Linked DNA regions of Homo sapiens. The protein of the gene in region 2 purifies or fractionates together with the protein of the main gene of each other region. This does not show direct contact. Each region holds a gene or a part of one and is shown on either strand. Other genes may lie near its edges. The genes, in order: PPP2CA, OTUD5 and RUVBL2.

Region 1 (3,653 bases), on a different chromosome or scaffold from region 2:
AAAGGAGGAGAATGAATGCCTCAGTCAGATTGTTTGAAAAAATAGGCTGGGCGTGATGGCTTATGCCTGTAATCCCAGCACTTTGGGACGCTGAGGTAGGCAGATCACCTGAGGTCAGGAGTTCGAGACCAGCCTGGAGAACATGGTGAAGCCCCATCTCTACTAAAAGTACAAAAAACTAGCCGGGGGTGGTGGCGGGTGCCTGTAATCCCAGCTACTCTGGAGCCTGAGGCAGGAGAATTGCTTGAACCTGGGAGGCGGAGGTTGCAGTGAGCTGAGATTGCGCCACTACACGCCAGCCTGGACAACAGAGCGAGACTGTCTCAAAAAAAAAAAAAGGAAAAGAAAAATGTTAGAGGGCTGGTCAAATAGATATTTTAGTTCAGTAAATTGGGGTATGGAGAGGTAATATAATTAGATTTGTGTTTTTAGATACTTTTGAAGTATTATAAATATATAAACATACCAAATGTCAAAATGTTTTAAATCAGCTGGTCACGGTGGCTCGTGGCTATAATCCCAGCACTTTGGGAGGACAGGACAAAGTGAGCATATTGCTTGAGTCCAAGAGTTTGTGACCAGCCTGGGCAACATAGTGAGACCTTGTCTACAAAAAAATAATAATAATTAACCGAGTGTGGTGGCACAGGCCTGTAGTCCCAGCTACTCAGGCTGAGGTGGGCAGAGTTGCCTGAGCCCAGGAGGTCGTGGCTGCAATGAGACTTGATCTTGCCACCCTACACTCTAACTTGGGGAACAATGAGACCCTGTCTCAAAAAAAAAAAAAAATATCGAGGAAGAAGTTCAAGAAAAAAAAGAATTTTTCTGAGAAATTCAAGAAAACATTTGCTGTAAATATTTAACAGAGAATATTATGTACATTACATACATTATGTATGTACATATGGTTTAGCTCAGTTGAATAGTTTCCAGCCATTAACCATGACAGTAATAATCTAGACTAGGCTGGGTGCAGTGGTTCACGCCTGTTATCTCAACACTTTGGGAGGCTGGGGAAGGCGGGAAGGATCACTTGAGTCCAGGAGTTTAAGAACAGCGTAGTCAACATAAACCCCATCTCTACAAAAAGTTAAAAAAAATAGCCAGGTGCAGTGGTGCATGCTTGTAGTCTCAGCTACTCAGGAAGCTGAGGTGGGAGGATCACTTGAACCTGGGAGGTCAAGGCTACAGTGAGCCATGATGCACCACTGCACTCCAGCCGTGTGACAGAGCAAGACCCCTGTGTCTTTAAAAAACAAAAATCTAGAATGGTAGAAATGATAACCGAAAAAAGCAAGTTCCAAAATTACATGCATTACATGCCAATTGTAGCTTTGCAAAGTGTACTGATGATGATCTGAACATGAAGCAAAAGATGGTAAAGAGCTGTTAGGGTGGCAGGCTTCCGCCTTTCCCTTTAAATAAATTGTTTGACTTTACCTTTACCCAAAAATCTTGGGGAGATTTTTTCCCCCCTAGGCAACAGACTGATTTTTATTATTAAAGAATATTCAAAATGATAAATGGCTGTCACAGACTTTCCTAATATTAGAGAAGCAGTGAGATGTGGTTTTAGCGTGAGCTGAATTTTCTTGATTAATATCTGAATTGTGTAAAGTCCTACGAAATATTTTTGGAGATCGTTATTTTCTGCATCTGTAAAATGAAGGAGTTGGACTAGATGGTGGAAGGTTTCTGCGGTGACTCCAAATACTATGAAAAGAGCTAACCTGTGCTAAAAACCCAGGATGAATCCCAGTGCTCAGAGGAATGAATGTGCTACCTTTAAGAGTATGCAAGCAGCCTGGGCAACCTAGTGAGACCCCATCTCTTCAGAAAACAATTTTAGCCAGACATGGTGACATGTGCTGTAGTCCTAGCCACTCTGGAGGCTGAGGTGGGAGGATTGCTTGAGCCTAGGAATTTCAGGCTGCGGTGAGCTACTCCACTGCATTTGAGCCTGGGCGACAGAGTGAGATCCTATCTGGGGGGAAAAAAACTTACTCATGGAGGTTAATGGGCTGAATTGTAGCCCCCAAAATTCATTTGTCTAAGTCCTAACCCACAGCACCTCAGAATGTGACTGTATTTGGACAGGTAATTAAGGTAAAGTGGGGTCACATGGTTGGACCCTAATCCAGTGTAAGTGGTATCCTTATTAGAGATTAGGACACAGATGGGGAGAAGATAAGACAGATGGAGAAGATGAGCATCCATAAATCAAGGAGAGAGGCCATCAGAAGAAACCAACTGTGCTGACACCTTGATCTTGGACTTCTGCCTCTGGAACAGTGAGGAAGTAAATTTCTGTTGTTTAAGCCACCTATTCTCTGATGCTTTGTTGTGGCAGCCTTAGCAAAAGAATACCGGGGGAAAGGATGTTTCTTTCAGTAAATGGTGCTGAAGCAAATGGATCAGAATGTATCATAGAACTAAATGTAAGAGCTAAAGCTACAAAACTTCTAGAATAAATCAGAAAATCTTTGTCAGGTTAGTTAAAGATTCTTAGATATAACAAAAGCACAGTCCATAAAAAATTGAAAAATCGGACTTTATCAAAATTAAGATTATGTTTTTTCAAAAGATGACACCAGAAAAAAAGTACTTGTATTCAGATATTTAAAAAAAAAAAACTTTTACAGCTCAATAACAAGACAGATAATTGTAAAATGGGCAAAATATTTGAATAGATATTTTACCCAAGAAGATGATACATGAGTGGTCAGTGAGCACATGAAAAGATGCTTGATATCAATTGTAATCAGGGAAATGCAAATTAAAGTAACTGAGTTACTACTTCACATCTATTAGAATGGCTGTAATCAGTAAGGTTGATAATACCAAGTGTTGGTTAATACCGGAGATTAAACTCTTCATGCATTGCTGGTGGGAATATAACATGGTCTAGCTACTTTGAAAAACAGTTTGACTGTTTCTCAAAAAGTTAAACGTTACCAGGTGATCCAACAATTATATTCTTAGGAATCTTCCTAAAAGAAATGAAAGCATATGTCCACAGAAAAACTTCCATGTATATGATTATAGCAACATTATTCATAGTAGCCAAAAACCTCAGTAACATAATTGCCAGTTCATCTTAACTGTGAATAGAGAAACAAAAAATGGTATAGCCATACAGTGAAGGACTGTGCAACTATGAAAAGGAACAAACCACTGATCTATGCCAGAACATGGGTGAGCCTCAAAAATATTCTAAGTGATATTTAGCCAAAAGACTACATTTTGTATTCCATTTATATGACATTTCTAGAAAAGACAAACTCAAGACAGTAAATCAGTGGTTGCCAGGAGCTGGAGTGGGAGTGGAGAGTGACTGCAGGAGGGATCTTTTTGGGATAATGGAAAGGTTCTAAAACTGGATTGTGGTGATTGTTGCATAACTATAAATTTGTGAAAAATTACTGAACCGTAAAGTAATTTATGGGGTTTTAATAGCCCATTGATTTATGTTTGGTATAAAGTTGGTGGTAGAGGGAGTTTGATTTTAGTTGAGATGAGGTGGGCAAACACCCCATGGGCATTTAAAAATTCTGTAGAGCTGTGGTTTTGGTTCACTATGATATGAGGATGTGTGCTGTTTTTTCAACAAAATTGTAACTGCATTTTTTTCTATAGAAAGTTTCTTGAATTTT
Region 2 (3,653 bases):
TTGAGACCAGCCTGACCAACATGGAGAAACCCCGTCTCTACTGAAAAATACAAAATTAGCCAGGTGTGGTGGTGCATGCCTGTAATCCCAGCTACTCGGGAGGCTGAGGCAGGAGAATCGCTTGAACCCGGGAGGCGGAGGTTGTGGTGAGCCAAGATCGCACCATTGCACTCCAGCCTGGGCAATAAGAGCAAAACTCTGTCTCAAGGAAAAAAAAAAAAAAGAAAAAAAGAAACACAGTCATTAAGGCTAGCACCTGAGAGGAGGTGCCACCTGACCAAAGGATTAAAACACCAAGACCTCCAAAAATGCTTGTTAACTGGATGAGAAATGAAGTCACTTCTGCCACGAAGTACCAGGAATGCCTGGAGCCCAGCAATGAATTCAGTAGAGCTAAAGTTCTGGGTAGTACTAGGCAGGTAAGCAGGGAGGACCAGGAAGAAAGATGAACTCATATTAACTGAATACCTGCCCCATGCCAGATGCAAAGGGTGACCTCGTTTAATTTTCCTGACCACAGCCCAGGTGGCAGGAAACATTACCCTCACTTTACAAAGGCAGAAAGGAGGCCAGACACGGTGGCTCACGCCTGTAATCCCAGCACTTTGGGAGGCCAAGGCGGAAGGATCATCTGAGGTTAGGAGTTTAAGACCAGCCTGGCCGACATGGCGAAGCCTTGTCTCTACTGAAAATACAAAAAATTAGCAGGGCGTGGTGGCGTGTGCCTGTAATCCCAGTTACTTGGGAGGCTGAGACAGGAGAATCGCTTGAACTCGGGAGGTGGAGGTTGCAGTGAGCCGAGATGGCACCATTGCACCCCAGCCAGCCTGGGCAACAGAGCAAGACTATGTCTCAAAAACAAAAACAAAAACAAAACAAAAAACAAAAAAACAAAGGCAGAAAGAGAAAGGAGCTGGAGTTTGGATACCAGCAAAGCCTAGTGTAGAGGCAACAGGGAAGGCCCCCACGAGCCACAGCATGGAGGACATACCTTGCAGCCCATCCACAGAATATCCTGGTTTGTCTCTAAACATGAAAGAGACCTGAATAGGCCCCTCGCACTGCAGGGTTTGGGTCCTGGGGCAGTCAAACTGGCATCCAGGCTTGGATCTAGAGGCTGGACTGCTAGCCACCCACTGGCTTTGTCATCAGCAGCCTGAGGAGTTTGGGCTCTGGCCCTTCTCTTTCTCCTTTTGGGGAGAAAATGTTGCTCAGGAAGGGCTAGTAGGGGTGGGGGGTAGGGGATAGCTCAGCCATAGATAAGTTTAAGCTCCAACAATGCCCTGGCCTGAGGAGATTGTGAACCTTGCAAACTCATCGCTGAGCCTATGGGAAAATCCCTCCATATCTTTGAGCCTCCACAAAAAGGCTGAGTAAAGCTCCCTAACACCAGAGGATCCCAGGAGCTGAGGCAAGATTCTGTAACCTAGTGGTCTAAGGGCCCAAGTGAAGTTGGAGCAGGCTGTGGAACCCAACTGACTTAGGTTCCAATCTAGCTCCACCAATTATTAGCCATGTGATGATGAACTGCTCTGAGCCACAGTTTTCCAATCTGTGAATGGGGATACCAAGCCTCCCAATAATAGGGATGCTGGGCAGACTCAAATATTACAGGGCTTTGCCCAGTAAGAGACCACTTAATGAGTTCCCTTCCCTTCCCCAGGAGGGAAAAAAGCCTCTCTAGTAGGCTGATTAATAGCCACGCAAAGATATCAAACCCTAACCCCCCTGGAACTTGTAAATGTTACCTTATAATGAAAAAGGTAGGGCCAGGCGTCGTGGCTCATGCCTGCAATCCCAGCACTTTGGGAGGCTAAGGCAGGCAGATCGCTTTGAGCTCAAGAGTTCAAGACTAGCCTGGGCAACATGGTGAAATCTCATCTCTACAAAAAATACAGGCCAGGTACGGTGATTCACGCCTGTAATCGCGGCACTCTGGGAGGCCGAGGCGGGTGGATCACCTGAGGTCAGGAGTTCGAGACCAGCCTGGCCAACATGGTGAAACCCTATCTCTACTAAAAATACAAAAATTAGCTGGTCATGGTAGCAGGCGCCTGTAATCCCAACTACTCAGGAGGCTGAGGCAGGAGAATCGCTGGAACCTGGGAGGCGAAGGTTGCAGTGAGCCGAGATAGCACCACTGCACTCCAGCCTGGGTGACACAGCGAGACTCCATCTCAAAAACAAATAAATAAACACCAAAAATTAACCGGGCATGGTGGCTCGCACCTGTGGTCCCAGCTACTCAGGAGGCTGAGGCTGGAGGATCACTTGAGTCCAGGAAGTGGAGGGTGCAGTGAGCCAAGATTACGCCACTGCACTCCAGCCTGGGTGACAGAGGCCAGCACTGTCTGAAAAGAAAAGAAAAGCCCGGGCACAGTGGCTCATGCCTGTAATCCCAGCACTTTGGGAGGCCGAGGCGGGTGGATCAACTAAGGTCAGGAGTTTGAAACCAGCCTGGCCAACATGGCAAAACCCCATCTCTACTAAAAATACAAAAATTAGCCAGGTGTGGTGGTGGGCGCCTGCAATCCCAGCTACTCAGGAGGGTGAGGCAGGAGAATAGCTTGAACCCAGGAGGCGGAGGTTGCGGTGAGCCGAGACTGCGCCTGGGTGACAGAGTGAGATTCCACCTCAAAAAAAAAAAAAAAAAGAGAAGAGAAAAGAAAAAAAGTGTTTGCAGATGTAATTAACTTACATTATTAAATCTGGAGATGGGGGGTTATCTTAGAGTATCAGGTAGGACCTAAATGCAATCACAAGTGTCCTTATAAAAGAGAGACAGAGGGAAATTTGATACAGACAGAAAAGGAAACCACATATACAGAGAAGGCGATGGTGAAGATGGAGGCAGAGATTAGAATGATGCAGTCATAAACCAAGGAATGTTGGCAGCCACGAGAGGCTAGAGAAGGTCTAAATTCTCCCTGAGAGCTTCCAGAAGGAGTGTGGCCCTGCCAACACTTTGATTTGGATGCAGTGAAACTGATTGTGGACTTCTGGCCTCCAGAATTGTGACAGAATAAACTTCTCTCTCTCTTTTTTTTTTTTTTTTTTTTTTTGAGATGGAGTCTCGCTCTGTCACCCAGGCTGGAGTGCAGTGGCGCAATCTCAGCTTACTGCAACCCCCACCTCACTGCAACCTCCAATCCGTCTCCTGGGTTCAAGCAATTCTCTGCCTCAGCCTCCCGAGTAGCTGGGATTACAGGCACCCACCACCACACCCAGCTAATTTTTATATTTTTAGTAGAGATGGGGTTTTACTATCTTGGCCAGGCTGGTCTTGAACTCCTGACCTCGTGATCCACCCGCCTCGGCCTCCCAAAGTGCTGGGATTACAGGGGTGAGCCACCGCACCCGGCCAACTTCTGTTGTTTTAAACCACCCAGTCTGTGGTAACATTTGTCACAACAGCCACAGGAAACTAACACACCCCCCTTGGTAGCACTCCTTGGTGTCTGTTCCCTAGTGCCTCACAGGTGTGAGACAATATGGCATGGATCCCGCTCTGCAAGGTCCACCTGCCTACCATCCTCCAGGGTGGGAGGTTAGAATTAAGGCAGCAGGGGCCTGGAATCTCCCTTCTCACCCTGGGAAACTACTGACCCTGCCTATGGATGGATGAGCTGCCACTGAAGTGGGGGTGGGGTGGG
Region 3 (2,945 bases), on a different chromosome or scaffold from region 2:
GTGATCCACCCACCTCGGCCTCCCAAAGTGCTGGGATTACAGGTGTGAGCTACCGCGCCTGGCCTCATGTATGTGTGTTTCTATTTCCATGTGTTTGTTATGTAACATCACTGTTTATTCTCTAACATGGAGCTCGTGTCAACAGCATTCTAACTTGGGCTCAGCGAAGCGTCTGTAACATGGCATTTTCTCCGTCAGGCTTCACAGCCTCCTTGCACTTAGGATACTAGACAGCACTTCAACACTGTGCACAGGGGACACTTTAAATGGCAATATCACCAACAAATGGCCCCAAAAAGTTTAAAAAAAAAAGGCACAAAAAAAGTGACAACACTTTGGGAGGCTGAGGCGGGTGGATTGCTTGAGCCCAGGAGTTTGAGACCAGCCTGGGCAACATGGCAAAACACCATCTCTACAAAAAAAAAAAAAAAATTAGGCCGGACGCGGTGACTCACCCCTGTAATCTCAACACTTTGGGAGGCTGAGGTGGGCAGATCACGAGGTCAGGAGTTCGAGACCAGCCTGGCCAATATGGTGAAACCCTGTCTCTACTAAAAATACCAAAATTAGCTGGGCATGGTGGCGGGTGCCCATAATCCCAGCTACTCAGGAGGCTGAGGCAGGAAAACTGCTTGAACCCAGAAGGCAGAGGTTGCAGTGAGCCGAGATCGTGCCACTGCACTCCAGCCTGGTGACAGAGCTAGACTCCGTCTCAAAACAAAAACAGAAATTAGCTAGGCATAGTGGTGCATGCCCGTGGTCCCAGCTGATGAGGAGGCTGAGGCCAGAGGACTGATTGAGTCCCAGGGGTGGTGTGTGTGTGTGTGTGTGTGTGTGTGTGTGTGTGTGTGTGGTGGGCACTGAGGCTGCAGTGTGCCATGATCGTGCCTCTGCACTCCAGCCTGGGCGACAGAGCAAGACCCTGTCTCAAAGAACAAAAGTGACAAACGTAGCACTAAATAGAATACAACAAGGACACTTATTTACAGCATGAGCGCTAAGGGAGCAGGCAGTGTTGCCTCGTTCACACTCAGCTGGGAAAGTGGGTGTCAGGTGACTTGAATTTGTTGCCGAAAGCAGGGCAGATATTTATTTGGGGATTACAAATAAATCTTAGCAAGCGAGATTCTCAGATACAGAGTCTACGAACAATCAGGGCTGCCCGTAGCTGCTGCCTCCCACAGGAGGTGCCCCTGGGCAGTCCCCAGGCCCTGACCTGCAGTTTCTGTGAAAACACCATCAGCCCTGGGGGTCTCTTCCAGTGTCCAGCCATCCAGAGACCAAATTACGGCCCTGCTACCTTCTAGACTTGTGACCTGGGCAAGTCACTGGGCCTCACTGTCCTGCCCTATAAAATGGGGCTGAGGTGATATCTACCTTCTGAGCTTCTTCTGCGGATCCAAGGAGTTAAAAGAGCCAAACACAGAGCCAGGCCCAGCGGCCCAGCATCCTCTGTAGGGTGCCCGCTTCTTCCCTTTTGTGATGCCCATCCCAACCGCCCAGTTTCAGCTGGGCCCAAGGCTGCAGGGCTGGAGCTGACAGTACCCAGCCTTCTTTGCCACCAGGTACAGCACTGAGCCCAAGCAGTGCCGGGCAATGGAATGGGGGTGCAAGGTTGGGGTGCAGCCTGTGGATCACAGCCTATGGGGGCTGCCTGCCCTCCACATCCCCCTGCTTCCTGCGGGCCAAAATGTGGCGAGGTGGAGAAGACAGCCAGCGGGCATGGTGGCAGGTGCCCGTAATCCCAGCTACACAGGGTGCTGGCAACACCTGGGAGACGAGGTTCCCAGGCTTCAGCACAGCACAGTACCCTCTGTGTCACAGGAATCTGTCCCCGGCATCCTCAGGCCAAACACAACATTAAGAGTTCCCCGTGCACAGGGTGCTGGCAACACCTGGGAGATGAGGTTCCCAGGCTTCAGCAGAGCACGGTACCCTCTGTGTCATGGGAATCTGTCCCTGGCATCCTTAGGCCAAACACAACGCTAAGAGTTCTGTTAATGGAGTTGCTGGGTCGAAGTGACTGAACAATCGTAGTTTATGTTATGTCTAACAGATGTCACTGTGCTTCCCTCAAGACTAGAAAACATCCCACAGCACTCCTGTGAGTTTCCTGCAGCACCCTGGGGTGCCTCGGCACGCAGTTTGAAGACTGCAGCCTTGGGGGCTAAAGGAGCAGCAAGACAGAAAGGCAGCAAGAACACAGTCTCTGGGCTTCCTCGGGAAGCAGAGCTGCCTCCCACCCGCCTTTTGTAAGCAAAGAGCGCACACTGCAGTCACGCGTCCCTCCCTGACCCGGTGTCAACACAGGCTCCCATTGACCCTCTGACCACACCCACTGCCCAGAGCATCCTGTTTTCCCCAGAGGCCCCTGTAGCCGGCTCACCGCGTGATGCCACGGTTGGTGGCCATGATCAGGACAGGCGCCATGTCACTCTCCAGGGCCCGGTTGAGGAAGGAGAAGCTCTCGATGTCCAGCATGTGGACCTCGTCGATGAACAGCACCTTGGATTGGGGTGTGTGTGAGAGTCACCACCCGCGTCCCCACTTCCCCGGCCCACCTCCACCCCACCACCCGCCCCGGCCATGTCCTGGGTCCTCACTCCAGGGATGATCTCCGCCTTGCCCTCCTCGCGCCACTCAGCCACCTTGGCATTGATCTGCTCACGGACTTCTGACTTGATCTCCCCTGTGTCACCTATGGGAGGCACAGGTTGCATCAGGGAAGCCAGAGAGGAGGCGGGTTCCAGGGCCAGAGTGTGGCTAAGACAGAGAAGGATGATGCCAGGGATGGAGGAAGGGGAGCAAAGCAAGGAGGGATGAGGAGCCTGAAACATCCCCAAAGAGGAGGAACAGAGGCAGAGAACACAGGAGGGGAGAGGGCAGGGCCACACCCATCACAGCACCAGCAGGGGTGGGGACGGAGCGGACTTGCAGGTGGAGAA

The links.
Region 1: the proteins of OTUD5 (region 2) and PPP2CA purify together in Homo sapiens (affinity purification with mass spectrometry, with the first as the bait; 3 studies listed by BioGRID). This does not show direct contact.
Region 3: the proteins of OTUD5 (region 2) and RUVBL2 purify together in Homo sapiens (affinity purification with mass spectrometry, with the first as the bait; 3 studies listed by BioGRID). This does not show direct contact.

The regions. Positions count from the first base shown.
Region 1 is NC_000005.10:134,202,074-134,205,726, reverse strand, and holds part of PPP2CA (serine/threonine-protein phosphatase 2A catalytic subunit alpha isoform), read left to right. Parts: intron 1-3,653. UniProt on the Homo sapiens protein: Catalytic subunit of protein phosphatase 2A (PP2A), a serine/threonine phosphatase involved in the regulation of a wide variety of enzymes, signal transduction pathways, and cellular events.
Region 2 is NC_000023.11:48,947,499-48,951,151, forward strand, and holds part of OTUD5 (OTU domain-containing protein 5), read right to left. Parts: intron 1-3,653. UniProt on the Homo sapiens protein: Deubiquitinating enzyme that functions as a negative regulator of the innate immune system. Has peptidase activity towards 'Lys-48'- and 'Lys-63'-linked polyubiquitin chains. Can also cleave 'Lys-11'-linked ubiquitin chains (in vitro).
Region 3 is NC_000019.10:49,010,752-49,013,696, reverse strand, and holds part of RUVBL2 (ruvB-like 2), read right to left. Parts: intron 2,699-2,945; coding exon 2,604-2,698; intron 2,506-2,603; coding exon 2,387-2,505; intron 1-2,386. UniProt on the Homo sapiens protein: Possesses single-stranded DNA-stimulated ATPase and ATP-dependent DNA helicase (5' to 3') activity; hexamerization is thought to be critical for ATP hydrolysis and adjacent subunits in the ring-like structure contribute to the ATPase activity.